Homo sapiens: one gene and its partners. The protein of the gene in region 3 interacts with the protein of the main gene of each other region in a biochemical or structural test. Each region holds a gene or a part of one and is shown on either strand. Other genes may lie near its edges. The genes, in order: CACNA1A, PLEKHA1, DLG3, FZD4, PLEKHH2, PDLIM4 and CACNA1D.

Region 1 (4,045 bases), on a different chromosome or scaffold from region 3:
GCTCAAGTGGATCCTCCCACCTTGGCCTCCCAAAGTGCTGGGACTACAGGCATGAGCCACCACATCCCGCTGCATCCAAAGCTTTGAAACTCTGCTCTCCCTTCAATTCTAACGGCCCAAAGTGCCTTTTCTTTTTCTTTATTTTTTATTTTATTTTTTGAGACAAAGCCTTGCTCTGTCGCCCAGGCTGAAGTGCAGTGGTGCAATCATAGCTCATCATAGCCTAGACATCCTGGGCTCCAGTGACCCTCCTGCCTCAGCCTCCCAAGTAGTTGGGACTGCAGGTGCATGCCACCACATCTGTTTAATTTTTTATATTTTATAGAGATGGGGTCTGCCTCTATTGCCCAGACTGGTCTCCAACTCCTGGTATCAAGTGATCCTCCCACCTTGGCCTCCCAACAGAGTGGCTTTTCAAACTTCCAAAGAATAGCATTAGGTAAATAGAGTTGGCTGAAAATGGCCAAAAATGCTCTAAATTTACCGAGCACTTATTATGTGTCAGCTGCTCTTCCAGGCCCTTTGCATACATTACCTCATTCAATCCTGGCAATGACCCAATTAGATCCCACTATTTCCATTGTGTGAGGCCCAGAGATATGAAGTCACTTTGCAAAAGTCACACAGCAAGAACACAGAAGACTATATAATTCTGGACGACAGTGGGGCTTCTCTTAATAGTTTCCCTGAAATGCTCAAGGCCTCTGGTGCCAGAGAGCCTGGGTTCAAGGACACTGGTTAGAGGAATGACCTTGAGGAGCTCACTCAATCTCTCAGTTTCCCCATCTGTGAAGCCTCTAATCCGAACACTTTGGGAGACTGAGGTGGGATGATTGCTTGAGGCCAGGAGTTGGGGACCAGCCTGGGCAACAGAGCCAGGCCTCATTTCTACTAAAGGTAAAAAAATTAGGCTGAGTGTGGTGGCTCAACCCTGTAGTCCCAGCACTTTAGGGAGGCTAAGGCAGGCGGAATGCTTGAGTTCAGGAGTTTGAGACCAGCCTGGGAAACACAGTGAAACCCTGTCTCTACAAAACACTGTCTCTACAAAAATTAGCCAGGCATGTGGCACATGTCTGTGGTCCCAGCTACTTGTGAGGCTGAGGCGGATGGCTTGAGCCCGGGAGGTAGAGGCTGCACTGAGCTATGACTGCCACTGCACTCCAGCCTGGGCAACAGGCGAGACCCTGTGTCAAAAAAACAAAAACATACAGCATTTTTTTTTTTTTGAGACAGAGTCTTGCTCTGTTGCCCAGGCTGGAGTGTGATGGCACGATCTCAGCTCACTGCAACCTACCTCCACCTCCCAGGTTCAACTGATTCTCCCGCCTCAGCCTCCTGAGTAGTGGGAATACAGGTGGGCACCACCACTAATTTTTGTATTTTTAGTAGAGACGGGGTTTCACTATGTTGGCCAGCCTGTTCTCCAACTCCTGACCTCAAGTGATCCGCCCGCCTCGGCCTCTCAAAGTGCTGGGATTACAGGCATGAGCCACTGCTCCTGGCCAAATACAGCACTTTTTTTTTTTTTTTGAGACAGAGTCTCACTCTGTCGCCCAGGCTGGAGTGCGGTGGTGTGATCTCGGCTCATTGCAACCTCCGCCCCCTGTTTTCAGGCGATTCTCCTGCCTCAGCCTCCTGAGTAGCTGGGGCTACAGGCGCCTGCCACCGTGCCCGGCTAATTTTTGTATTTTTATTAGAGGTGGGGTTTCACCATCTTGGCCAGGCTGGTCTTGAACTCCTGACCTCGTGATCCATCCGCCTCGGCCTCCCAAAGTGCTGGGATTACAGGCGTGAGCCACTGCGCCTGGCCAAATACAGCATTTTATAATATATTTTTATAAACAAATACACAGCACGTGCTACTTTGGCTGTTGTCATTATTAATGTTACCGTCATTCTGCGGATTCGAGGTCACCTCCACTTACTTCCTCCTCCGATGCCTCCGCTCCTTGTCCTCCCTCCGCGCGTCCCCCTCGTACGTGGCTGGAGCGCCATGCCGGTGCCTTCTCCTGCGCTCGCCCCCGTCGGGGCCCTCGCCCTCGCCCTCGCCGCCCCGGGCCGGCCGGCTGCCCTCGCGGTGCCGCGCCCTCCGCTCCGCCTTGTCCTCCGGACCCTCCTCCCCGGGCCTGCGGTGCGCGCGATGACGTCGATGCTCCCCGTCCGCGCCCGTGCGCGGGGACCCGCTGCGGCTCTCCCTGCTGCCCCCCTGCCGGTGCACGTGCCTCCGGTGGGGGTCCCCGGCCTTGCCTCGCTCGGCCTCGCCCTCCCAGAACCCGGGTTGCTCCAGGCTGCCCTCCCGGGCGTGGTGGTCCGACTCGCGGCCGTAGGGTCCCTCCCGGCTCAGCTCGGCCTCCTGGCTTCCCGCCCAGGGCCTCCGTGCGTCCAGGCCCGCCGAGCCGCTGGGGTCCCGGGCCCGATCGTGGTAGCGGGCCTGTTTCCTGAGGAAGTCCTCGGCGCGCTGCTGGCCGAGGCGCTGGTCCACGGTGGGCTCGGCCGCCCGGCTCTTGTTGGTGTTGTTGTTGCGGTTCTCCTGCGGGTCCACCACCAGCGGCCGGTCCAAGTGCGTCTTCATGTCTGGCCGCAGGTGCCGCGTGTAGGCAGCCTTCCAGCGCTCGTCCGGGTCCATTTCGTTATACAGGGCCTCCCGGCTGGCCAGCAAGTTCTGCTTTCGCATCTCACTGGTCCGCTGCTCCCACACGGACTTGGCTGGCTTTTGATTCTTCTGTTGCTCTTTCCTGCAGTGGCATGGTCACAGGACTTAGAGCATTGCTAGGCACTGTAGCTTGGATGGATGACCCAGGCGAACCAACCCACATCTCAGCCTCCCACTCCTGCTCTCCACCCTCTACTCCCCACTGAATGCTAGGAGTCTGTGAGCATCTGAGTCAGGTCCCAGCCTCCTCTGCTCAAGAACCCTCCATGGCTCCCACCTGGCTAGGGGCAAAAGCCCAAGTCCTCCCCCCTGACCCAGAAGGCCCTGTGTAATCTGCTTGTCACCTCCTTGCCTTCACCTCCTCACACTTACTATTCGATTCTAGTCACACAGGCCTCCTTCACATCAGGCATGTTCCTGCCTCAGGGCCATTGCCTATGCTGTTCCCTCTGCCTGGGATGCCCTTCCCCAGGCCCCCCAGTGGCTCCTCCCTCACCTCCTTCAGGCCATGTAACCTTCTAGGTGAGCAGTCCCCAACCTTTTTGGCACCAGGGGCCAGTTTTGTGGAAGACAGTTTTTCCACAGACCTAGGTGTGGGGGGTGGTTTTGGGATGAAACTGTTTCACCTGAGATCATCAGGCATTCGATTCTTAAAAGGAGCACGCAACCTAGATCCCTCAGATGCACCGTTCACAATAGTGTTTGTGTTCCTATGAGAATCTAATGCTGCCTGCTGATCTGACGGCAGGTGGAGCTCAGGCGGTAATGCTTGCTTGCTCACTGTTCACCTCCTGCTGTGCAGCCCCGTTCCTAATAGGCCTCGGCCTGGTACCAGTCCACAGCCCCGGGACTGGGGACCCCTATTCTAGGTGATGCCTTCCCTGACAACTTCGTTTAAAATCACAACTCTCTTCACTCCCAGCATTTGCTATTTCCCTCCCCTACTTTCTCTGTAGTTCCATCGCCTTCTAACACAATATATAATTTACTTATTTATCTAATTTATTGACTCCTTCCCTTGCTAGAATGGCTACACACAGGTGGGATTTTTTTTTTCCTCCTTGTTAATGCTGTATCCCCAGAAGTTAGAACAGTGCTGGGTACATAACAGCTGCTAACCAAATATTTATTGAGTGAAAGTGGGTGGAAGGACAAGAAGTGTCTCTTCCTAAAGCTCAGTTCTGTCAAGGACCACCCCCACTGCTTCCCAAATCTGTGCCTGGGATAGTGTGGACGTTCAGGAGCCAGGGTAGCATCCCAGGGATTAGGGGCACTTACACAGCTATAGACATGTTGGCCGCGGACAGAGGACTCACTTCTGCCACCTCCTTGGCTTTCTGTAGGGCAAGTTTCTGGTTCGCTGCTTCTTCTTCCTCTTGCTCGTCCTAAAAG
Region 2 (4,045 bases), on a different chromosome or scaffold from region 3:
CCATGTTATTATACTTTGACATAAGCAACTAGATTGAACCATATGACATTGCCATTTTTTTAGTAATTCAAAATGGCTGTATATTAGCAATTTCATATGGTTCAATCTAATTGCTTATGTCAAGATGCAATAACACGGTTATACTGAACATAATAACCTTGATAAAGAAAGAAAATAATATAATAATCTTAGCAAGACATTTTACTAAAGTTTTCAAGAGTAGGTATGTCTTGATTATTACATTTAAAAGTGACACCAAGTTGGTACTAATGGCTAATACACTGGCTGGCAGAATCAAGATTTCCTAAGTTGGAAAGAAGATATAAAATTAATAAGAACAAACTAAAAAATATTTAAATTCTGTACTTAAAAAAAAAACTGGCACTGTGTCCAGAAAAGCCAATGCATTAATTCTAACATAGAGATCTGGATTTTAAAAGTTTATGTGGACAAGACCTAGCTGAGTGCTATAGCCAAAGTGATCTAGTCTCCAAACACGCCATAGGCTCTCTTGCTTTGATCTCTGCCCACACTGTTCTTTGAGCACTGGAATACTCAACTTTTCCATCTCTTAGCCAATATTATATCCAAACTTCTAAGTCAATTTCAAATGTTACCACTTCCATGAAGACTTCAACTCCTTCTACTAGCTGTGTAACTTTCCTCTGAATTCCAAGTTCAAGTTTTATTCAGGGTAATAAATATATTCTATTTTGTACTTAACTCCTTTTAGCTCTGCTAAATGGGTAGTACTGATAAAGGAAGAATGACAAGAAGAATCTATTATGTAGGAACACAGAAAAATAATCAAGGAGCTTCAAGTAAAATTCAGGAGAAACCATACATATGTCAACCAGACCTTGTGAAGAGAGAGAAAAATCAGGGAGAGAAAATAGGCAGAACTGTGCAATGGCTCATATGGGTGAGGAGAGGTCCCTTACAACTCAAATTCTACATAAATAAACATACACACATTAGTATCTACTATAGACACATATATATCTTGTCTAATCTAAAATCAGTATATAGTGAAGAATACTAGACTACTTATCAGCAGACCTAGTTCCTGCTCTGTGAAACAGAACAGAACCTTGTATAAGTCTCTGCTCTTCCCTAGACCTTCCATTCCTCACCCACACGAGAAGCCTACTGGACAAAAATCAGCTTAGAAGTCTGCTAGAGATTCATCCCTTGCTTTGCACATACTTCCTTGCAACATACAACCCCATTTTTAACTTCTACACCAATTTTTATTTGAAGATAAAAAGTTCCAAAAGGCCGGGCGCGGTGGCTCATGCCTGTAATCTCAGCACTTTGGGAGGCTGAGGCTGGAGGATCACCTGACATCAGGAGTTCAACACCAGCCTGGCCAAGACGGAAAAACCCTGTCTCTACTAAAAATACAAAAAATTAGCCAGGTGTGGTGGCACACCCCTGTAGTCCCAGCTACTCGGGAGGCTGAGGCATGAGAATCACTTGAACCCAGGAGGCAGAGGCTGCAGTGAGTCAAAATCATACCGCTGCATTCCAGCCTGGGTGATAAGAGACTCCATCTCAAAAAAAAAAAAAAAAAAAAAAAAAAGTAGAGAAAGTTGAAAGTTTAAAACTACTTCACAGATGATATCTAATCTCAGGCCTCTTAAGGCTGGGATTCCAATTTTTTAAATTGTAGCATTTACCCCTGTGTTTTGCAAGGCAACAATAAAATCAAACTGCATTTCAGTTCATGGATGGCATTACAATGACTGACTCAAATCTGACACTACAAAATAAAAGGACTACATATGTGCAAGAGTATCATGTGGTTAAGTCATTTATTTATTTAAAAATAATAGTCTCTATCCTAGATGCAGCATCTTAAACCTAAATTTAATCTCACTAAAGGGACCCTGGTATTAAGCCTCCTTAATGCAAGAAAATCATCTATCCCTGGTCTTTATTTTAGCTGTTGTTTGAAATACATGTTACAAAAAAAGTATTTCTTATTTTTGGGACAGCTTCAATTGTTATTTTTTTCTGTGACTCAAGTTCTAATTTTCTAAAACCTAATTTGCCACCAGAGAGAGTATTTCTCTCTCGAGGGAAAAATATATACAGAAGCATTAATTTTTATCAAATAAACTTAGTTTCACCTTCTGAAATTCAAACAAAACAGTAGAGGTCAGGGGTGCAGGGCAGAGAGGACAGCCAGTAGAAATAAATCTAAAAATATACTGCTTAAGAAGACAAATCTAAAGCCTGTATAGTATGTTAAATACTTAAATACAACTTTCTGTGCTTTTAAAAGATAATCCTTGGGATTTTACAAACCTGTGGATTATCCATGTACCACACGAAACTATCTTCTCTGGTATCCAGTATGAAGTACCTTCGAAGAAATTTCCCACTGTTTTCATTTTCTTCAATGTCTAGAAAACCACAAATGCGATTCTGACGATCCACATAAGGCATTTCTGAGCTTGAACATTACACTGTAAAATAAAAATATTAACAGTAAGCTCCCTATGAAACAGGAAAGTATTTCTCATGGACTGCAAATCTGTTCAATGAGGGGGCAACTTGCCAACATTAGGTAAGGTCAATTAAAATGAACACACACCAACATCTGAGGCATTGACAAAAATCACTTTTGAAATTCAGTTTGTGAAGAGTGGTTACTAAATGTAACTATTTATTCACTGTGATGGGGACAACAGAGAGCTACTCACCTCAGCTGAATAATTTACTTACTTTTTCCCTAAAAAAACCCCAGGTGAGCCAAAAAAAATAGTTATCCAAATTTTAATTTCCTCACAAATCAAGATAATCTATCCTTTAGATTATTTTAGAATATTTTTAAATTCACAAAACAACAAAAGTTAAAATTTAGTGACCACTTGCTACATGCTAGGCTCTGTACAAGGTTCTTTTCCATATGTTAACTCTTTTAATCTTCTAAACAATCCTAGGAGTAGGCATAATCATCCCCAGCAGATAAGGAACTTAATACACAGGGGAAGTGATTTTCCAAAATTCCAAAACTAGTAGGCCAAGAGTCAAAGCCTGAATCCAGATTACCGCACTCTAGATCTCCTATCTTATGCTCTACACCATCCTCTCTAAAAAACCCTTGAATTGTTAAAACTAAAGTGAATCAAAATAAACTAGTTAATGTACTGGAAAGAGAGATAAGCAGGTATGATGTGCCTCCTGATGGAAGACACAAACATCACCTATCATGTGAACATAAAGCAACAAGAAAAAATGTTTTTTAGATCCCCTCTATATCCAAATACCAACCTACAGGAGATGCAGAACACAGAGGAACATGCTAAACTGCACCAAAGGAATTCAATCAGCAAGAGCCAGACTATAAGAAACAAAGGAAAAAAAAAAGTTTCTTTAGCAAGTAAATTATTACAAGAAAAAAAAGAAAAAGAGAGACATTATAGATTAAAATAGACTTAAAAGGTGTATCATATTCTGGTCCTAAAGTACTGCAACTTTTATTGTACTGATTAAAGTTAAAAAACCATTAGGTGCCAAGAACTGTTTCTCTAGAGACTACAGACATGTGATTCCTTCTTGATGTGATGCTTAGCCCAAATCTGCACCAGACAGCTGTTACTATTCTGGTACTTCTATAGCTGGCACCATCACATCTTTTGGCAGGATGAATTTACATAACTATTTATTTAGAGGCTCAAGGTAAATTTAACTTACAGTGAAAATTCAATTACAATGCACACTGATATACTATGTATCTGCATCACTATTCCATATGCAGTCAGAGAAATGATAAAATACACCAAAAAGTTTTAAATAAAACCATCCAATAAGTTTGTGTGTTGTTGCTGTTATTGTTCTTATAAATCTGATACTTTAAAGGAAATAATTTCTTTAATAAATTTACCATGTTTGTAAAAAAAAAAAAGTTTACAATGTAATCAAAGCTTGAAAAATCAATACTCTATACTACCATATACCACAGGTAAAAGCTATCAACTTGCCATGAGAATAGACATAGATCAGTGGAAAAGAATTAAGAGCACAGAAATAAACCTAT
Region 3 (4,045 bases):
ACTGAGCTGCCAACTGAGTCAGGCCACCAGAGGCCTGCCACATCCAGGCTACCAACTGGGAGGCACAGCTCCAATCCTGAGCCCCTGGCCCTCTCGTACTTGTCCCCAGAGCCCTCTTGGTCTGCCAAGTCCCTCCCTATGTACTACAAGCCATACTTCCTTCAGCAGCATCCTCTTCATCTGAATCAAATTGACCTGGATGGTTTCCAAATCGTATTTCAAAATGCATCTCCCAAGGCTAACAACAGGAAAGAAAAGACAGTGACAGGAGCAAAGAGAAGTCCAGGGACCAGTCTGCTCATGGGTGTCCCCCGCCCAACAGAGCCCCTGAAGTACAGAACCATGTGGCACTCCACAACTAAGAGGCCAAACGCTGGATGGGTTAAGCAGACACCAGGGAGCGCTGCTCTGACCATTCGGTGGGCTCCCCAGCCTTCCTGCCACCACTCCAAAGCAGGAGAGCCTGGCTTCAGTGGTGAGAGGGGAAGCATCTCCATCCACCACCAGACACATATGTCAAAACACAGACAACAAAACCAACAAAAACACCTTGAGGACAAGGCAGCCCTCCTGTCTCACACAGCTGGGATCTGCCCATCTCTTAGTGGTGAGGGAAAAGAAAGCTCAGGCGGAGGAGCAGCGCTCGTAGGAGGCACAAACAAAGCCCGCCCATCCAAGATGACACGCGAATGAAGATGAGACATGGACACACCAAACTATGGAGAGAGATGCTGCTCATTTCAGCCAAGACCACACTGTTCCAGACCATGATATGCTGTGGCCCCCCCACCCAGAAAGGACTGGCTGAGTTGCCACACATGGCTAGTTCCTGAACAATCCCCATGGGCAACTCCTTTGCCTTTGGTCTGTATTATTTATTGAAGGAGAGTATATGCTGATAGAACCCATTTGGTGTCTGTGCACCCTTGCACGCAGCAGGATGGCCACTAAGGCCTCATCATCTAGGTCTTTTTCATTTTCCACTCCAGGATTCTTTTCCAGAAAGGAAAATGAGGTTGGAGTTTTCCTGAGATAAAGCACTAACTATATATGGTCCATAAATGATGCTGAGGCCCCTAGCAGACCAGCTCAACCCCTTACAGGTGCTCTGTGGGAAGCCAAACAGTGGCTGTTTGCTGAGGCCCGGGATCTGCTGGGACATCTCAGATGCAGGTTGGGAAAAAGGGGTCACAGTACCCTTGCCCCTAGTTAGAGGACTGTTAACAGCTGCAATTCCTACACCCAATTCTTTAGCGTGGTATCACTGGGAGAAGAATCCAACCAGCAGGCACCCCTCCCTTCGACAATAGGCTAGAGATTAGCTGAGTGGTTACCTTGGAGAAACATTTCAAGCTTACTTCACTTCTAAGGTGGGATGCCATGCTCACGCCCTCCCACTTTGAGTAGCAAAAGGTAAACAAAGGCATGAATGATATGGACTTATTTGGGTACTAGGGATCCATAGCAAACATGTAACATATGGAGCCACATGCACTTCTTCCTGCTGTGATGTCAGAGTGCTCACAAACACTGCCCTCCCCTCACCCTTCACCCTCACCCATGTCCCCAATAGCCCCACCCCCACTATCTCCATTCATGCCACAAGTACAGTGAACGGTGTGTAAGTTGGACTTACTCAGGTTCTTTGCTCCATAATAATCGTCACTTAACCCCGGGAAGTCCTGATTTCACAGACAGCAAGGGCGGAGAGAGGACGACGGGGAGAAGAGGGGGGAAGGGGAAGGGATGGGAGGGAATGGAAGAGAGGGAGAGATTTGGGGAGAAGAGAAAAAATAGAGAAAAAGACAAGGGGGGAGGAAGAATACAGAGGTAGGTGAGCACTAGTGACAGAATTATGAAACACCATGAAGACCTAGCACTATAGTGAGGCCAGGAACTTTGCCACAGAAAGAACATCCCAGGGCAGATAAGACATCAAGACTTCATGCTGCCCAATTCATTGCCAGAGGGCCTTGGAGTAGACTAGCTTTCTGAGGTGTCTACAGCTGTAGGCCAATGGGACAGGACAGGTGACACTCCAAGGCTTAGAGCACCTGCTTTGACTAAATTTTGGTTGTGGAGCCCAGGTCTCTGTTTGCCCCTGAAATCACCATTTCCCTCTGCAGTGCGTGAAAGAGCAAATGTCCGCGTGTGCCAGGTAGGCAGATAGAATTGCCATCACCTCAAGAAGCCTTTGCCCAATACTGATTCACTCTGTTCAAACCCTTCAGGAAAAGTTTCGCATGGTGTAGAGTGTGGCCTCCAAAGCTGCCCTGAGCTGGACAGATCTTGGGGGATGAGCTCAGCTTCTGGAGAAGCACTAGGCACCTTCAACTCTGTCATCCAGTAGATACCCCCTCGCCCACCAGGCGGGACCACTGAGCAATGAACACCTCCCCAGGCTGGGCTTGGCATGGAGGGACTCTGGGACTCATCTGATGAAACTATGGTGACATCACCTCAGGCCTCTGACTCAGACTGTCTCCTAACTGCTCATGAGCAGAGCCACCCCGTCTATGGCTTCTCATTGAACTACTCCAGGATGATGAGCCGTGGCTGCCATCTAGATGAGGGCACCCTTCTGTCCACCAGGTACCACCCCAGATAGCAATGACTTACACATACCATGACTGTGGACCAAGCTGGCCTGACAGAAGGACATTTCCTATCAGAACCAGTCAGTCTCCTGCCAGCCCCAATAGACCAAGACCCCAAGATCCCTCCATGTAAGACAGAGGAGTCACTGGTAAATGAGAGATGTTTACTGTTCATGATGAGACAAGTGAGAAGACATTTTTCAAGCCAGACCTGGTGTTTAAGGTTAAGGTTGGAGCAGTTAATTGCTGAGGCACACGGTAGAGCAAGAAGATTTATCAGGATTAAATTTCTTCTTCCGTTGAATTTAGCTCAGTGTGACTGCTCTTCCTACCGAACCAACTTTGTGTTTCTCAATAGATCTTTATTTGAACAATGTGGAGCAACACTCCTTCCATGTCAACTCATTTAAGCAGGAAGGATTCTCCTGGGAAAACTGGCTCTGTAGGCACTCTAGGATGACAGCGAGTCTGCTGAGAGTTGTGTGGATATCCTGTATGCTTATGCACGTGCATGGGATTCCAGAAGTAGCCCCAACTCCAGGGATCCTGGGAAGAAAAGGCTCTTCTCTTGACATACATGAGTGAAGTTAAGGGAAAGAAAACACAAGAGGAAGAAACCAGGAGAGCAACACTGAGTCCCTAGACCTTGTTCTCTTGAAAAACCATTTTCCTGACCCTGACAGTCTAGCTAAAAAACCGTTCCTCACCACCACAGCAGAGCTCTGTCTGGCACTTCCACTGCTAGTGCCAGGCACTTCCTGGAGGCTGACCCTGGGACCAGTCCCACCTCAGTGCCTCCAACATTCATTCTAACTGAGGAGCAGGACAAATAAAACCCAACATCTCCTTAGGCAGACCAGTTTCTGCCCTGACTCTGTAGATAAGCAGGTGCACACGCACACAGGCAGGCACGAGGCCACACGTGGCCCTGCCCAGGCTTCTCTCGAGGGAAGGGCAACTGAGGATGAGAGGATGGGGCTGCAGATGGCCTGCTCTCTGGACTCTGCTGCTACTTACGTTCCTGTATGCTGCTCTCCTGGGCCATGTTTTCTTTGCTCTTGTAAAATGGAAACTTTCGAGAGAGGCGGAAACTCTTTTTACGTTTCGTTTTGATCGACTGTGAAAGAACATGAAGATGGAGGGGAAGGACAGAAGAAAAAAAAAAACAGAACAATGGATTTTAAAGCATGCAAGAAAAACTAAAATGGAGACAACGGTGAGCTAAATAAAAGACCATCTCTCACAAATGGAGTCTATGAGATTAAATGAAAGTTGATGTAAGAGGAAAATTATGTTTACAAGAAAATGTTGTAGGGATGTTAGAAGTTTCTACATAATCCAGACACTCATAACACTCACTGGTACTTCCTAAAGAACAAAGGTCACTGTAGCCTCCTGGACACATGCCCTAAGGTACCACTGATATACACATCTACTCCACGTCTCTC
Region 4 (4,045 bases), on a different chromosome or scaffold from region 3:
GTCTGGAATGTGAAAGGAGAGGCCTATAACCCTGTAGCATTGCTAAGGCTACTAATCCAAATGGCCACTTCTGATCAAATACACTTTGCCCTGAAAAGGCAAGAGATTTGTGGAAAAGGCATGTCAAAACCCAAAGCATTGTCAAAACACTAGCTCCAGAACTCAAAACTCAGAAATCAGGTGCCCAGATTCACCCAAGTGCTCTTTTATTGTTATTATTTAGTCATTGACAAGTATCGATCACCTACTCCATGCCTGGCTTTCTGCTAGATGCTGCCTTGGTCACACAATCACTGACACATTATGAAGAAAACTGCATTACAAACCTCTATACTCTAACAGCAAGACCAGTCCCCTACCGCCTGGTCTTCCTTCCCCTGCCTGGGCCAGAGTCCCTGCACAACTCCCAAGACACCAGAGCAGAGCGTGAGTAAGGGCAGGCTCTGCCCCTGGGTGCGTGCTCCAGGGCCGTGGACAGTTATGGGAACTGTCTACAAGCAGCACAGGGAGTTCACATTTTACATTTCATAGGCAATGGAGTATCAGATGGAGTTAAAATGGTTCTTCTGGGGATCAATTCTCATGCTCCTGGAGCCTGACCTAGAGTCTAGCCAAGGTACTCAGACTGGGCACAGCAGCAGGGGCCACCTGTGCCCACTTAACTTCAGTCTCAAAAGCCAAGACTTTGCCTTCCAAAACATACAATCGACTTTACATGCATCTTGATGTCAGAGAGCTCAAGAACCACACAAAAACAAAAAGGAAAGAAGAAAGGGAAATGTCAAACTATGGGCATAAGGCTCAAACCAAATTTTTAAAAAAGAGGAAATGCTTACTTCCAGAATTTGACCACCTTTTTGGAATTTTGAGTCCCTGGAAATGTTTTTCCACAAAGTGTGATTGAAAAAAAAAAAAAGAAAAAAAAAAGCTTCCCTTCCTATTTTTTTAAGGCATGAATTAATAAATAAATGTCATTGCAAAGCAGTTGCTGAAGCAGACAGGTATGAGTTACAAGGAGAGCAACCTGTGACATAGTCAATTTGTCCCCAAGATCTCATGATTAGAACGCCTAAGGCAAGGTAAGAGAAAGGCCAGTTACAGTTTTAAGAGAAGTGCAATTTTCGAGAGGCTGCTGGGGGTACCCCCTTGTGAAGAACGTATGCATAAATTTTAAAAGCTTTGGATACCTCTGCTAAAGGCAATTAAGACCTGGGCTATTAGAGTTTGCAGTTCATTTCATATGGTCTACACTTTATTCCCTACTAACCAATCAGGCTTCTGGCTGGCATTCTGGAGATTCATTAAGCACCATATAAATACTCCAGGCCACACTGCCTCCAGTGAAATCTTACAAGGAGCCTTTGCCAATTACTAGGAAACAATTACGCACCAAGTAGTTGGATTAGCTGTCCTCAGTTCCCTTTATAAAACTGAAAAAGTCTCCATTGTCCTAAGTAGACCAGATTCTGATAACATTCTTATGCTTTAAAAAATAAAAAAATTTTTAAAGGCACTATCATTCTGAGAATGCAAGTTGAAGTTGACCATAGTTTTAAAGTCAGTTGAGTATACTATGTCATGGTCCAACAATGTGCTTTTAATTGTAATTGACACACAAAAATTACACAGCTAATCTGTGTGAATGCAAAGTTGCCAAGAAACTTAACATTTCAGCTCTTCCAGACTGGCGTCTGCATAGATGCAATCACACAAGTAAAATATATTAAGTCCCCACTGCTCAATGCAATAGGTCTCTGGGGTCCGTCAGGTAAGTCAACTTAGTAAATCTCATTTTCCTCTGAATTAAGTGATTGTCAGAAAGTGAATCACCCTTCCTTTTCCCCTCTTTAAGCATGCTGCAGTACAAAAATTCTATAAAAATACCTTTTTTGAGTCATTAACATAAAATGAAGAAAACAGCAGCAGCCAAGAAGAGAGATGTTGAAATTTAAGAGAGGAAGACAGAGAAGAAAAATCCACTGGATACCTTATGTGTGTGAGTACAGTACTTTTGTTTGTTCAAATAACTGTTTTATGACAAAGGCACTGAAAGATTCTAACACCACTTCTTGGGAGTGCAGTCCACAAAGTTCTAAACAGCAGACAGCGCACCACAGAAGATGTTTATGTTACATCAGCCAAACTATAAAACTCTTGTAACACTTTTCTGAACCCAGCGTTTCCAGTGTTTATAGATTGCTTTGCTATCTGAAAGACCCAGTTAGTATTTAAAATGGTAAAGGGTTAAAAAAGTTAATATTTCTCCCTGCTAGTTACCAACTCACAGCTCAAATCCCACCCTGCAGGGGAAAACAGTATCGCCCTGGACTTCCTGGAATCTAGGCAGGACCTCCACGCTCCAAGCTGCAACCTGCTAAAGTGATCAACGTTTTGATTTTTCACAGCTTTGAAAGCCTCTAACTGGCTTTTCCATTTTGGATCATTCCAAAGTCTGCAGCAAAATCATTGGTTTTTTGATGCTGGGGTCGGGGTGGGAGGCAGTGGGTTGACGGGGGTCACTTAATTGTTGCTAGTTTGTTCAAACTGAGATTCACTGCATAAAACTTTTAGTAGAATTTCCTCCAAAATGCTGGCATTCCCCCCTTCAAAATGAAGAAAGCATGGAGGCTGACTAGCCTTATACCACAGTCTCACTGCCTTTTCCAGGCTTCACCCAACCATTTCCTCTCTTCTCTCTCTTTACCTTTCCAGAATTCACCAATCTGTTGGAACACTTCTGCCACGTGTGAAGAGTTTTGGCAGACCAAATCCACATGCCTGAAGTGATGCCCACCAACAAAGACATAAAAATTTTCAACATTTCAACAGCCATGTTGGAATCATCTGCAGAATACCGAAAAAGTGCCCAGTTGGAGATTTCATAAAAATAACAGGCAATCACACACGTTGCAGGAACTGTGTACAGTACTGAGAACACCCCAATCTTGACCATCAGTCTTTCTAACTTGTCTGTCTTTGTCCCATCCTTTTGAAGATTTGACCGAATTTTGAACAAGGCCACCAAACCTGCAGCAATGAACAAAGTTCCAATGACCAAATAAGTAAAGAGGGGAGCCACCACGAACCCGGTGAGGGCATCGAGATTTTGGTTTCCAACATAGCACAAGCCAGTCAGTTCATCTGCATCCACCAGTCTCATAATCAAGATGACAATGGTTTTCACTGCGGGGATGGCCCAGGCTGCAATGTGGAAATAAGAGCTGTGCATTTCAATGGCTTCATGACCCCATTTGAGTCCTGCTGCCAAAAACCAAGTGAGTGTCAGAATAACCCACCAAATGGAGCTGGCCATTCCAAAAAAGTACATCAGCAAGAAAATTATTGCACATCCTGTGTTCTTAAGTCCTTCTTGGATGAGAACAGGTTCTGCTGCCTCTTCAAAATCACAGGATATCCTTTCCCGGCCTACAGTCAGCCTGACAATATAAGCAATGCTATAAATATTATAGCACATACTGAGAAATATGATGGGGCGCTCAGGGTAGGAAAACCTAGAAGAATCGATCAGGAAGGTCAGTACTGTGAAGGCAGTGGAGATGAAACACAGGCTGGCCCACACAGCCATCCAGATATCAGTGAACTCCTTGGCTGAGCGGCTGTATAAGCCAGCATCATAGCCACACTTGAGCACACAGTTCAGGCTCCTTTTCACCCAGATGTACTGATCAGAATTGGTTCCCACAGAGTGACACTCTTCCCCAGGCTGGATGGGGGTTTTGTGAGGTAAGGGCACCTCTTCATCACCTGGCCCTTCCATGCACATGTGGTTGTGGTCGTTCTGTGGTGGGAATTTGCTGCAGTTCAGACTCTCTGGCCAGGCAAATCCAAATTCCTTCAGGACGGGTTCACAGCGTCTCTTGACTGAAAGACACATGCCGCCGCATGGGCCAATGGGGATGTTGATCTTCTCTGTGCACATTGGCACATAAACAGAACAAAGGAAGAACTGGAAAAGTAACAAAATGAACACACACAAAAAAAACAATGACTTGGAAGTTTGACCAAATGCTCCCACAAAGCTGAG
Region 5 (4,045 bases), on a different chromosome or scaffold from region 3:
GACGTGAAGAAAAAGTAAGAGAAAGCTTTTTCACAATCACTGACTACACATAAACACCACCTTTAATATTCTTACCATTCTAGAATATGGTTGGCGGTGGGGAGAAAAACCATGAGTGGCTATAACATTAAGCTAGAAACCATTCTCAATCATTGATTACACATAAACACCACTTTTAATATTCTACTATTCTGGAACATGGTTAAACAAAGAATGGAAAAACCTGAAGTCAGAAGTCATAGATACAGTAGCATTAAATGCTATCGCCTTCCTATGTCAATGTACATTTCACTCAAGTAGAAGAGATACCTAAAGTCAAACAAGAAATGAATATGAGAATTGCAATGGAATTTATATTATCTTGTTCCAAAAGTAGATTATTTTGTTTTCTCTTCTCTTCTGAAAAATCTCTGAAACAGGTACTGGACAGGTTACTAGCCCTGCTCCCTTGAGAAAAGGGACCACAGGTGGTTCCTAATGCATAGAGCAACATGTCCTGAATTTAATAATGGGTCTAACTTGGACACAGTTGACTGTCCAGGACACAGTGGGCAACTAAGGCCATCCTCTTCAAGACAGCCAGTGGCTTGAGAGGCAACTGGCATGAGTTCTCCGACTATCAGGGACATTTTCGATTGAATAGTGCCTGGCTGAGTGAATCAGATGTAGTTTCTTTGAGTGTGAGATACACCCACACACAAACAGCAACAGAAAGACATATAACAATAAGGGCAGTAAGCAGGAGACGGGAGGCAGTCTGAAGCCCTAGGAGACTGGGGGAAAGTGGTTAGTAGTAGAATTAGAGAGAGGGGACTGGAGGCCTGGGAGGACAAGCTGAGCCACTGGGAGCAGGGGCAATGGATGTCACTTGTTTCTATCGGAGGTACTGCTGACTATCACATGTTGTCCCTCTAGAGTGACTATTGTAATTTGCATGGTATTCCAGTTCAATAAGGATAGGCTATGCCTTAAAATAAGCTCTTAGAAATTTTTAAAATAAACTCATATTTATTGAGGCAATTAGAATACATCTCTTTTCCTTGAAACCTGAAAATACCTAATAAACACAGAAATAAAATCTCAGACTTGGCCAGTCTGCTGGAAGGCTTTTGAAAAGCAATACTACTTTTTCAGGACCGAATAGCTTCAAAAGAGTAAGAGAAGACAGAATGGAAAAAAAAAAAAAAAAAAAAAAGTAGTAGAATGGGTTGCCAAATAAAACGAACTTAAAAGCCTAACCTAAATCTCTGAAAATCTCAACATCATAAGATAGGCAAAATTTCAATTTCTTGCTGCCTAAAGTATAACATAATTAGAATTCCAGAGATTCACATGCCATTAACTTCCACTTTCCTGTGCTATCCAAAATTTAGTAATAAACTACAGAAGGTTTCATGTGGATATTGAAATAAAATGTCCTCTTGAAAGCAAATAAGAGCACATACATCTTAAGTTCTGAATTTATATTAGAAAAACATGTCCACCCTAATTTGCTTAAAACTGCATCAGTCACAAAATAAAAAATATAGTAATAAAAGAACATGACTCCAAAAACCAAAAGAGTCCTGCAACCCAGATGTTTCTCTGGAGGCCAAAGGTTAAATTATGCCAGCATGTGAAGAAAAACTTAAATCTATAACAGATCATTTCAGACCAGGTGCAGTGGCGTGACACGCCTGTAATCCCAGCACTTTGGGAGGCTGAGGTGGGTGGATCACCTGAAGTCAGGCATTCAAGACCAGCCTGGCCAACATGGTGAAACCCCACCTCTACTAAAAATACAAAAAATTAGCCAGGTGTGGTGGTAAACGTCTGTAGTTCCAGCTACTTGGGAGGCTAAGGCAGGAGAATTGCCTGAACCCAGGTGGCAGAGGTTGCAGTGAGCTGAGATGGCGCCATTGCACTCTAGCCCGGGAGACAAGAGTGAAACTTCATCTCAAAAAAAAAAAAAAAAATTAAAATTAAACAGATCATTTCATTTTATTTCAAATATTGGAAGAATTTTTTTTTTTTTTTAGTCTAGCAGTGTTATCCTACTAATGGTCAATGTTTCAATGGAAGAAGATTTTATCTATTCTAGGTCTGTAGAAAGATACTTTGGAAACCAATGGCTATATAAGCTCAAAAAGAAAATTAAATTTATCTTAAAGCCAATCAAATAACGACTAAGTTCAAAAACTTATAACTAACAAGAGTTAAGTGTCCCGGTTCAGAATTCACCCAAAATATCACAGTTAGGGGGAACCCTTCTTTCCCACCTCCAATGTTTCCTTCCACATGGAGGAACCTCCAGTAATTGAACACTGCTGATCCCTCTCCACCTATTCACTTTCCCCTCCCCAAGAGGAAGAGTGGCTTAATGTGATTGGTAAGCTGAGAAGGAGAAACTGGGCATGCAGAGCCTGGCAACTTCCTCTCCCCTTTCTCTTGAGAAGTAGCTGCCTGCAGGAAACAACCATCTGTTCTGTTTTTTGAGGTAGTAAGTTTTAGAGGGGCATGGCTTCAGTAGCAGAATCCTGTGGTGGTCCAGGGCTTCCTGGGAACAGGTGACTCAATCCAGCTAATCTCAAAGTTCAGTATTAGAAAGCTCATTTGCCCACTAATTCTCTAAAATTAGTTTTATCAGTAAATAAGGTAATACCTTGATCTCCCATCTGTCTTGTCATTATCTTATTTCTCAATTGATTCAGAACTCAGTGAGGGAAGAGAAGAAGAAATTTTATCCTAAAAACTGGAAAACGTCAGAACAAAGCTGGATTTGAAAGGAAAGAAGAAAAGAAAAAGTAAAACTTGAAAATGAGTGTGGACACTTTGGGAGGCAAAGGCAGGTGGATCACTTGAGGTCAGGAGTTCAAGACCAGCCTGGCCAACATGGCGAAACCCCGTCTCTACCAAAAATACAAAAATTAGCCAGGCATGGTAGTGCATGCCTGTATCAGCTACTCAGGAGGCTGAGGCAGGAGAATCACTTGAACCCGGGAGATGGAGGTTGCAGTGAGCCAAGATCGCGCCACTGCACTCCAGCTTGGGCGACAGAGCGAGACTCCCTCCCAGAAAAAAAAAGTGTTGAGAAAAAAACTACTGCGTATGTGTTACATGCGGTGATATAATTACCCAAGAAGGAAAACGGTGCAGGGGAGGAGTTGGAGGTTTGCTGTATGCCACCTTCTTTGCTGAGTCACAGTGTTCCTGGTCATCTGAATTTGGAGAGTCCAAGGAGTCATAGGAAAATAATCCATCATCACAACTCGTGTCCATATTCTCTAAAACTTCTGTACTGTCTCCATCAACTAGATCAAGATCAGTTTCCTGAGGTCTCAGTGGTCGTATCATGCTTATAGCGTTTCTATTTGTACCAAACATCCTGTCAGAGCTTAACTGTGGCTGGCTTAAGTGCCTTTTGGCTAGTGCTACACTTATACTGAAAACATTAGGAATCCTTAACTTTGGGGGTGGCAGGTGTGATGAAGGCACTAATTGTGTTCCTTTTCCAGAGAGTGAGTTAGGATGCTTTGGCATTAAAGCTGGGGTCAAAATAGGGCTTGGGGTGTTGGCTTCACTCGATGAAGATGAATAATCGAGTCTCTGGGATTGAAATTTTTTATTCAGTTCATCCGAGGAACTATCTTGTTCCTTTTTACTTAATTCAGAATTTCCCTTTCCAAGAGGACTATTTAGAGCTTTCCACTGTGCCTCCTGCTGCCAAGAATATAGCTTCTTGTGTTCTGGTCTCTTTATGCCAAAAGTCTCTTCCTCAAATATAGAGCTGCTGTCATCAGATGCTGTCAGATACATTTCACTTCCCATCCTGCTACACTGGACCCCTTCCTCAGATGTGTGACTGGAGAGGGTGGATGTGCATCTGGACTTGGATCTTCCTTTGCTCCCGTCTTCCTCATCAGAGCTCCAGTCACTCACAGGAGCCCCAGAATTCTGGGAGATGCCACCATCTGTGGCAAAGCTTGTTCTTGTTTTCCGATTCTGTTCTGAGCCACAAGGGGTTTGATGCAATGTTCTCTGGCCTCTGTTGTTTTCTAGAACTTGG
Region 6 (4,543 bases), on a different chromosome or scaffold from region 3:
TAGATCAGGAAACGGAGGTCCAGAGAAGTACAGAAGGATAGTTAATTGATAAAAGACTGAATCAAGATTTCAATCCAGGCCACCTGATTCCAAATTTAAAACTATGCTCTTAACACCTGCATTTTTCTTCCAAAGGGGGTAAGGGAAAAGAGAGTATCTGAGGGAGAGATAGTGTTCCAGGCAGAAGGACCAGCATGTATAATGGCATATCTGGAGAGAAAGAAGAAGGAAGGTTGTATGGCCGGAGCATCATGAGTGAGGGGAGAGTGGGAGAGATGAAGTCAGAGAAGAGGCAGGGATCAGATATTGCAGAGTCTTGTACACCCGGGTGGGAAGCTGGCATTTCTCCTGGGTGGCTGGGAACCATGGAGGGCTCTAAGCGGGAAGTCACAGGACAGAGTGGAATTCAGGCCGATCCGTCTAGCTCCTAAGCACAGGATAAACAGAAAGAAGGAACAGAGACAGGAACAGTGAAGTCAGGTGGGCGGTGAGGGCATGAATCAGCCCCTTACCGGTAGTGGCTGCATTCCCAGCCCCTGCTCCACCCAGCCTAGATGTGGTGGGCTGGGAGTCCAAGTCAGAACCAGGTGCCACATTGTCCTACACAGTCACAGCAAACTGCAGACTGCCTGGATTCCTCCTGTCTCCACTCTGCTTCTCTAGGTTGATTACATTAGCCTCTCTGTGCCTGGGTCTCCATCTATGTAAGGCCAGAGGGAGTCCTTACTTCTAAAGGCTGTTGTAAGGACTATTTGAGAAAAACAGGGCATGTAAAGCCCCCACAGGAGGCTGGGCATAAATAAGGTGGTGCTCACTACAGGGACTGGAGGGAGCTGTTACCAACACCCATTAGGGTAGGGCCTGGCACACCCTGGATGCTTGGCCAAGGCCAGCCATCATTATAGCTTGTGGGGAAGGAGCCCCGGATGATGTTCTTGGGACTCCTGGAGGCTTCATGGGCTGAGATTGCAAGCCCCCAGCCCTGCCGGGCCGATAGCCTCCTCCCTGTCTGTGTGAGGCTGTCCCTCCCTACCAGGTCCCGCGTAGGGGAGGTCCTGGAAGCAAGGGAGGGGCTGGATCTTGAGCCCCACTGGTGAAGACACTCCCACATATCTTCAGTCCCTGTAGACCTGCCCCAGAGGTACCTGCTAGGCAAGCTGTGGCCTGTGCCTCCCCAGCGCTGTAAATCTCCCCAGATCCCACCCAAACCCAACCTCAGCCATCCTGGCTCCTTGGGCCTGAGCTGCTGCCGCGTGACTTTGGGGGACAAAGGAGGCTCTTCCTGGCAAACCTTCTCCCAGACTGCCTGCCTGGGGCCTGCATCCCCAGTCAGCTCCAAACAAGGCTGTTGCTGCTGCTGCTGCCGCAGCCGCAGCTGTGACGTGTGGAGGCCTTTCCTCGGAGGGCAGGCAGCCGCGTGGGCAACAGATGTCTCAGCTCCCTGCCGCCTGCAGCCGTCAGCCGCCGCCACTGAGCCTGTCAGCGGCCTCACGCCCAGGGTGCCTGGCCAGCCCGCTTAGTGTCCCCACCAGCCCCCTCAGCGGACACACAGCATGACACACACAAGCAGACACAGGCTTGCGTACACACACACACACACACACACACACACACAGCAGGAATCCTATAGGAAAGAGGAGATGAAAGGCTCTGGGATGTGTTGAAGGCCCACCTCACTCGGCCCCAGGGACCTGGCAGTGAGGGCAGATGTGGGAAGCCTCCTAGGACAGCTGGGCCTGCCTGTCACCCTGGCCCCCAGAAACGGGATTCCATGATTCCACGCTCCACCTGGTGCCCACCCCCTCCCAAGAACTGGACAGAAGTCTCTTAAAGCCCAGCCGGCTTGGCCCAGCCCCCATGGCAAGAGGTGGCAGTAGGGTGGGGGAAGGTGCTTCTCTGTGCCTCTGACACAGGCCCCCAAAGACAAGATCAGCCTGTGTGGGAGCAAGGGATGGCCGTCAGATGGTTTCAGGTTATCTCCTCTGCTCCTTCCAGACTGAGAGCCGCCAAGGGCAGGGCCTGGGTTCTCTCCTCTTCTGTCCCTTAGGCTGGGGACCCCCAAGGGCAGGGTCTGAGTCCTCTCTTTTGGCCCTCCAGACACGAGGATGTCGAGGCTGGGCCAGGATCCTGTCTCCCCTAGACAGGCACCCCCTCGAACAGGGCCTGAGTCACCTCCTCCACTCCTCTATCCTCAGACTAGCCACGCTCCAGGGCTGTGCCGGCTCCTTTTCCTTCTCTGTGGGCAAGGCAGGGCCCTGGGAAACTTGAGGAACGGGCCTGAGGCTGTCCTGGCCCCCGGCTTTGTGTCATCTTGTGGGGAGGGGTCTCACAACCTCACAGTTAAGTCTCCCTTTCCCCTGGAAGCCAAAATTCCTCCTGGTCACTTCCCCTTAGGGTGACTGAGGTCGTGAATGAGAGACTGACTCACGCCCAAAGTGGGAAGTGGATGGACCTCTGTCTTCTCAGATTCAGCGAGGACCCCAGACCTCCCTGGGTCACCAAGCTCTGCCGGCAGGGACCCCTGATAGGGGAAGGGGGGCTCTAAATCATTTTGCCCCAGATCTTCAGGCAGGGGGTGAGTCTGAAGAGTTTCTGGGCCTCTGTAGAGCTGTCTAGACCCCTGGCCCATCTCCGCGGGTCCTTCCCGGGTCCACAGTGGCTCCCCCAGATGAGGCCAGCGGGGAGGCGGGTGCGTGAACTCTTGGGAGATTCTTCGCGGGATCGGGCAGACAGGCCCAGCGTGGGAGGAGGGCGGCTGGGGCTGCCTGCCTCTGCCTGGAAGCCGCCTCTACAGCATGCGGGGCGCCCAGGCCAACCCTCCGCCTTCAAGCCTCGGATACACAGGGGATCTGGGTCCCGGGCGGACCGCGAGAACCCGGTCTCAGACATGGGACCGCCCTGCCGCCACGCAGCCGCCAGACTCACCCGTGAGATGGTGAGGGGCGCGCTGAAGTCCCGGCCGCCCACCAGGCGGAAGCCCCAGGGCGAAGGCCCGCGCAGGGTCACGGAATGGGGCATCGCGGGCTGGAGCCGCAGCCGGAGCCTGAGCCGGACTCTGAGGAGGAGCCGCCGCCGCCGCAGCCGCCGCCGCCGCCTGGACGCCGCGCCCGCCCCCGGCCCGCCCGCCCCTGTCCCCACTCGGCCCAGCCCCCGCCCCCGCTCCCTGTGCGCCTGGATTGGCCCCGCGGCCAGCCCGACCCTCCCACTTCGGGGGGCTCTGAGGACCCGCCCTCAGCCCCGGCTGCCGGCAACCCGGCACCCCCACTCAGCTCTCAGAGATCCCCGCGTTCGGACGGCCCCGACGGCCTGGATCCTGCTCGGGCCTTGGATCTGCAGGCCGCGGACCCAAACCCAGCTGTCGACACCGGCCCTTTGAAGTCGCTTTTAGGGGCGGTGCTCCAGCCCGAGGAGGGATGGAGGGCCCACTTGGGGGATGGGGCTGCCCCAGCTCAGATACCTCCTCATGGGCCCGACTGGCACACCTGCGGCCCATCCTGCCGTGTGAGGAGCCCTCTGAACCAAGAACCCTATGAACCAGGGGCTTGCGCAGCACTGGGCCGGGGACGCAGACCCAAAACGACAGCAGGCAGCGCCGAGCGTGGGAGTGGACACAGAAAGGTCCTCAGACTAGTTTGTGGAGGCCAGTAAGGCTTCCTGGAAGAGGTGGTCCCTGACTTGTATCTGGAAGCAAGGTGTCCCTGCTTCCCCAGAACATTCAGGCCTTCTCTTGCTGCTTGCAGGCTCCTCGCAGGCCACCTCCCTGTCTGCACAGCCCCCTCCCCTCGTCCTTTGCCAGGAGATTTGTTTCCCCAGGTCTCCTGAGAAAGTAGCAGCTGGAGCGGCTGGGGTCGTGGCTGTGCAGTGTAAAGGGAAGAAATATATGCAGCGCTTCACTTTGGGCCCTTTTCTCTCCAAGGTCTTCTCTCCATTCCCAACCATTATCCTCCGGGGATGTACTTGAACAGCCAATGCAGATGCCATGGCACCACCAACCTCCCTCTGGTTCTCTCGGCACTTCTATCTGGCTACATCAGGGAGACACCTTTTACTTTTCCAGACTCTGTGGAGGTCTCTCATTTAGCCCAAATCCTTAACCTTATGTGTCCTTTTAGTCAAGCTGTGATAAGGACCCTGCTCTTGGGCTCCTCACAGGTGGTGGGATGAAATGTGTCCACTGGGTCTCTGACAACCCGCAAAGAGGAGAACTGCTTGAGAAGCACAAACCTAGGGCAGTCCAAGGAAGGGAGGGGCCCTTCAGAGTAGAATGTGGGTGCCTCTGTAGGAGGCAAGATGCTGCTATCTGTTCAGCTGGGAGAGAAACAAGTGGTGTGTGGTAGCGGTGTTTATATGGGAGTGTATTTGGGGTGTGTGTGTGGGGGGGGGTGCGGTGTCTGAATCCATTAGAGCACCAGCCATTGGGCTGTTCTCCATCACTTTGTGGTGGAGGAGGTTTCTGCTCAGCCCCTTGCAGACTTGGATCCCAAGTGAAGAAAGGTGGAAGGGCCAGCAGGAGAGCTGGTCACTGCATTGTCTCTCTGAGGTC
Region 7 (4,045 bases), on a different chromosome or scaffold from region 3:
ATCCAAAAGTGGGTTTTCATCAGGACGTACAGTCAGAGTGTGAGTGCATTCTAATGAAAACTTCAGCCCTCATTCAATTGCATATAAAAGCCCTCAAAGAGAACATACAGTACAGCAGTTTTGTAAAAGGCAACAATACGATTTGTACAGACCCCGACACTCCAATCCTATAGATCACCACGTTGCTCCTCTGTCCCCAGCACCCCTTATTTCTTAAGCAGCACCACCAGTCCCCAGAGGACAAGAGCAGCTATATCTCATCCACCTATGCATTTCTGCACCAGCGATGCAAAAAACACCCTGGGTGGGCCACAGAGAAAACCGTAACTATGGATACCCAAGGGGCAGAGCAGCCAGCTGGACCTGCTCTGTAATTCACTTACTTACTTACCAGAGGGTGGTTCAAGTCAAACAAACAAAACCAAAGACAGTTGCAACCCATGGTGGATCCAAAGGTACAGTATCAAAATCATGGAACTCTTGCCCAAAGAAAAGACTGCAAATAGTCATCTGGTATATCTTGTGGAAAGATGATAGGTTTATAGTGACTCAAAATATTTTAGAAAAATTTCTGTAGTGTCAAGTTCTTTCAAACTTAAAATTTTAACCCCAGAGGATTTTCGCTGAATAAATGAGAATTGGCTCTATTTCTTCTACTTCTGGATAGCCCGAGTAAAAATACTAATAATTTCTAGATTTTAGTGGGGAACTACAATTATTAGGACCCATGGATATTGCTGCAGTTCAAATACAATACAGTAATTACAAAATATAGACCATCTCTTTACAAATACAAATTATAGTATATTACAAGTCATGTACAGTAAATCTATAATTTTAAACAAACTAGTGTATCTAAGTTTACCTGGTTGCGAGTGCATTATTATTCCAGTTTACAGTTGCCCTTAGCGTGACAGTCAGAAACCGACCATCGGAGTGATATTCTCTTATGTAAACTGGCGTCACATCACAGAAAACCTTATTTATGAGGTCCCATTGCCCTCGCAATAATCACTGGTAGCTGGGTTCTGACTTACTTACACACCGTATTTCAGAACAGCTAAACAGGAACCAGGACGCAGTGTATTTGGGGGAAAGGGTTTAAAAATGGATATGTTGGGCCCAGTGACTGATATGCTAGACCGATGGCTGAGGTAACGACACAGGTGTGATGATCGTCATCACCTTTAACTTTCCCCTGCACCCCGCCGCCATGCCTTCAGTTGGGTGGGCCTGGTGCCCTGGTACATGGGAGAAGCAGACTCCACAGCAGTGCCCATCTGGACAATGGGGCAGGGCAGGTCTGGCCTCCTCACCCATCCTCTGTGAGAGGGCGGGGCCTGCTGTTTCCTGCAGCTGGGGCCGAGCGCATGGTACTCTGCCAGGCTCAACCGCTTGGGACCTGTTCCTACCAGGTTTATGGCTTTCTTGAGGCATGACATCTCTTATACAAAAGTCTAATTAATTGAATATTACTCCCAACTAGTGCCTAAACTTTCCTAACTATGAGGCACTTTTCCCCTGGCTCTCCTGCGCCCCACCTGAGGCCAGAGCCAGTCTGCCCCTCGCTGGGGGCTACAAGGTGGTGATGCATATCATTTCATCCGCCAGGTCCTCCTCATCCCTCCCAGGGTCTGGCTCTTCGTCGCTGTAGCCAGGACCAAAGTCCTGTAGCTCATAGTCCTGCCGGTGTGAGAGGGGGCCCACATCCCCGTTGGCTCGGGGACGCACGTTCCCATTAAGCAGGGTGCTGGCTGCACTCTCCATCTCGTCGATGGTGAGGTCACAGGCATCAGCGATTTCGTGTTTTGTTGCTGACACAAATTTTGGGTCCCTTGCATAGCGTCCCAAGCCTTCGGATATCAGGACCTGTACAGAAAAGAGGGATGGATGGCATGGGGGTGTTATAAGGCTTTGCAGGGCAGGGGGACGACAGAAAAATCAACTCCAGTGCTAACTTAACTGCACCGTGTGCTTTGGGGATGCAGCTCAATCATGTTTTCTAGACCTCATACATAATAACTAGTGTAAATGGCTTTGAAAATGTCCTGGAGCTAAAAAACTACACATGGCCCAACAAGAGTGAAACCCACTGGGGAAAGACATTTAGTATAAACTAGAAACATATGCCGGAACAGCACCCATAATGCCAGCACAGCTCATTTATGAGAATTGACGGTGGTGACCAGTTTTTGTTTTTTTTTTTTTTTTTTTTTTTTTTTTGAGACAAGAGTCTCGCTCTGTGGCCCAGGCTGGAGTGCAGTGGTGTGATCTCGGCTCACTGCAGCCTCCACCTCCCGGGTTCAAGCAGTTCTCCTGCTGCAGCCTCCTGAGTAGCTGGGATTACAGGCATACACCACCACGCCCGGCTAATTTTTGTATTTTTAGTAGAGACGGGGTTTCACCATGTTGGCAAGGCTGGTCTTTGAGCCGCTGACCTCAGGTGATCCACCCGCCTCGGCCTCCCAAAGTGCTGAGATTACAGACGTAAGCCACTGCAGCCAGTGGTGGTGACCAGTTTTTACTCATGCTTCAGGTACATTCCTGCTGCTCAGAAGTGTCTGATTGAGGCAGCCTAGCTCACAGCCTGGCCGCCCTCCCACCACTGCCCTTCCTGCTGTTACAGTTGCACCTCTGCTGCTCCTGGTGCTTCCTGCCCACCACGGCCAAGAACCGTACTCACTGCCTCCACCAAGCTGTCCGCACTCCTCTGCTTGTCGCTGTTTTTGTTCCGGAAGCTGCTGGGGACAGTCAGGCTGGCTGGTGTGAAAGTCCGGTAGGAGATGTCGGGCTCGTCTGTGTACCAGGAGCTGCGGTGCAGGGACGGCAGGCTGCCGTTCACCTGGTCCAGGGCCTCTGACTGCTCCACTTGGATCAGGGGGGTGTAGCACGGTGTCCAGTCCCGGTAGGGAGGGGTTGCTGGAGGGGTGGCCCACGACCGGGTCGAGTGACTCGGTGAGTACTTCTGGGCTTTACTTGAATCTAGGCCGGCAACTGCCATGATCTGAGGAAAGAGGGGACTGTTGGGAGACCAGAGGTTCTCAGAGGTCCGGGCCTCAAACCTTCTGCGCACAGACCAAGCACCGGCGCTGCGCTCGCCAGGGGCAGTCCAGGCAAGGACTTGGAAAGGACATGGGCACACTGAAGTACGCTGAATGAATGGGCGGTGATGACTTTGTTTTCTAGCAGACTGTGCTTTCTTTTACCCCGAATCCATAATGCATTTCCTTTGGCTTTTCCCAAGGAGGTATCAGTTGCTAATTCATGAAATTGCTTCAGAATGAAGAATCAGGGAAGCCCAACAAGCTGTGGGTGTGAACACACCACCCAGTTCATGCTGGGTTTAAATACCGAAGTACATTCAGGGGAAACTACCACTTCCCAGCACTTATAGGAAAACAGCTGGTTCTCTTTGCTCTGGAGTAATGCATCCTAGAGCCGGCATTTGGCATGTGCTAAAGCACTGGGTACAAGCCCCGGTCTTACAATCCCACCACGGCAGATGCACCTTGGGGTTCACACTCTGCAGAGAGGGACGGGGAACGCTGTCTGTAAACAGCACAGGTCCATGCCCACCACCCTGTCGTGCACGAATGAATGGCATCTCTGATGTGATATTTTCAGAAAGAAAAAGCGCCATATTGTTATCCTTGAGGGAAAGCCCTAGTGAGTGGGCTCCGGCCCCACCCTCTTGCCTGTGCAGCCGCCCTCAACGTGGGCAAACTGTTCTCCCCAGACTGCTCCCTTTGTAGGCAGGGGAGGTTAACCCTGCATAGTACCCACAGGGCCCTGCCCATGGAGGGACCCATAAACTTAATGAAGGAACCACTTCTTAGAGAAAATGAAGGGCTGCACCGCTTGTTCAGAATCAGCCAAGTGGCCCCCACTCCCTGAGCTCAGATCACATCAGGCTCTGTATTCAATGCCAGGAAGAGGTGGTGGGGATCGCAGGGAGGCACCTGGGCAGTGAGGCCAGCTTTGGCAGCTGGCTCCCTGGATTCAAATGCCAGCAGTCACTTGTGTGAGCTTGGGCAGCATGGGACTC

The links.
Region 1: the proteins of DLG3 (region 3) and CACNA1A interact in a test that uses a peptide from one of them, tested with the Homo sapiens proteins (one large-scale study listed by IntAct).
Region 2: the proteins of DLG3 (region 3) and PLEKHA1 interact in a test that uses a peptide from one of them, tested with the Homo sapiens proteins (one large-scale study listed by IntAct).
Region 4: the proteins of DLG3 (region 3) and FZD4 interact in a test that uses a peptide from one of them, tested with the Homo sapiens proteins (one large-scale study listed by IntAct).
Region 5: the proteins of DLG3 (region 3) and PLEKHH2 interact in a test that uses a peptide from one of them, tested with the Homo sapiens proteins (one large-scale study listed by IntAct).
Region 6: the proteins of DLG3 (region 3) and PDLIM4 interact in a test that uses a peptide from one of them, tested with the Homo sapiens proteins (one large-scale study listed by IntAct).
Region 7: the proteins of DLG3 (region 3) and CACNA1D interact in a test that uses a peptide from one of them, tested with the Homo sapiens proteins (one large-scale study listed by IntAct).

The regions. Positions count from the first base shown.
Region 1 is NC_000019.10:13,296,619-13,300,663, forward strand, and holds part of CACNA1A (voltage-dependent P/Q-type calcium channel subunit alpha-1A), read right to left. Parts: intron 4,039-4,045; coding exon 3,932-4,038; intron 2,736-3,931; coding exon 1,926-2,735; intron 1-1,925.
Region 2 is NC_000010.11:122,391,607-122,395,651, reverse strand, and holds part of PLEKHA1 (pleckstrin homology domain-containing family A member 1), read right to left. Parts: intron 3,350-4,045; exon of another isoform or gene 3,280-3,349; intron 2,472-3,279; 5' UTR 2,452-2,471; coding exon 2,311-2,451; intron 1-2,310. UniProt on the Homo sapiens protein: Binds specifically to phosphatidylinositol 3,4-diphosphate (PtdIns3,4P2), but not to other phosphoinositides. May recruit other proteins to the plasma membrane.
Region 3 is NC_000023.11:70,493,045-70,497,089, reverse strand, and holds part of DLG3 (disks large homolog 3), read right to left. Parts: intron 3,715-4,045; coding exon of another isoform or gene 3,615-3,714; intron 1,683-3,614; coding exon 1,637-1,682; intron 1-1,636. UniProt on the Homo sapiens protein: Required for learning most likely through its role in synaptic plasticity following NMDA receptor signaling.
Region 4 is NC_000011.10:86,948,504-86,952,548, forward strand, and holds part of FZD4 (frizzled-4 precursor), read right to left. Parts: exon of another isoform or gene 3,968-4,045; coding exon 2,639-3,967; 3' UTR 1-2,638. UniProt on the Homo sapiens protein: Receptor for Wnt proteins.
Region 5 is NC_000002.12:43,699,678-43,703,722, reverse strand, and holds part of PLEKHH2 (pleckstrin homology domain-containing family H member 2), read right to left. Parts: coding exon 3,115-4,045; intron 2,714-3,114; exon of another isoform or gene 2,642-2,713; intron 1-2,641. UniProt on the Homo sapiens protein: In the kidney glomerulus may play a role in linking podocyte foot processes to the glomerular basement membrane. May be involved in stabilization of F-actin by attenuating its depolymerization. Can recruit TGFB1I1 from focal adhesions to podocyte lamellipodia.
Region 6 is NC_000005.10:132,256,210-132,260,752, reverse strand, and holds the start of PDLIM4 (PDZ and LIM domain protein 4), read right to left. Parts: upstream 3,058-4,543; 5' UTR 3,019-3,057; coding exon 2,926-3,018; intron 1-2,925.
Region 7 is NC_000003.12:53,808,937-53,812,981, reverse strand, and holds part of CACNA1D (voltage-dependent L-type calcium channel subunit alpha-1D), read right to left. Parts: intron 3,005-4,045; coding exon 2,684-3,004; intron 1,870-2,683; coding exon 1,576-1,869; 3' UTR 1-1,575. UniProt on the Homo sapiens protein: Voltage-sensitive calcium channels (VSCC) mediate the entry of calcium ions into excitable cells and are also involved in a variety of calcium-dependent processes, including muscle contraction, hormone or neurotransmitter release, gene expression, cell motility, cell division and cell death.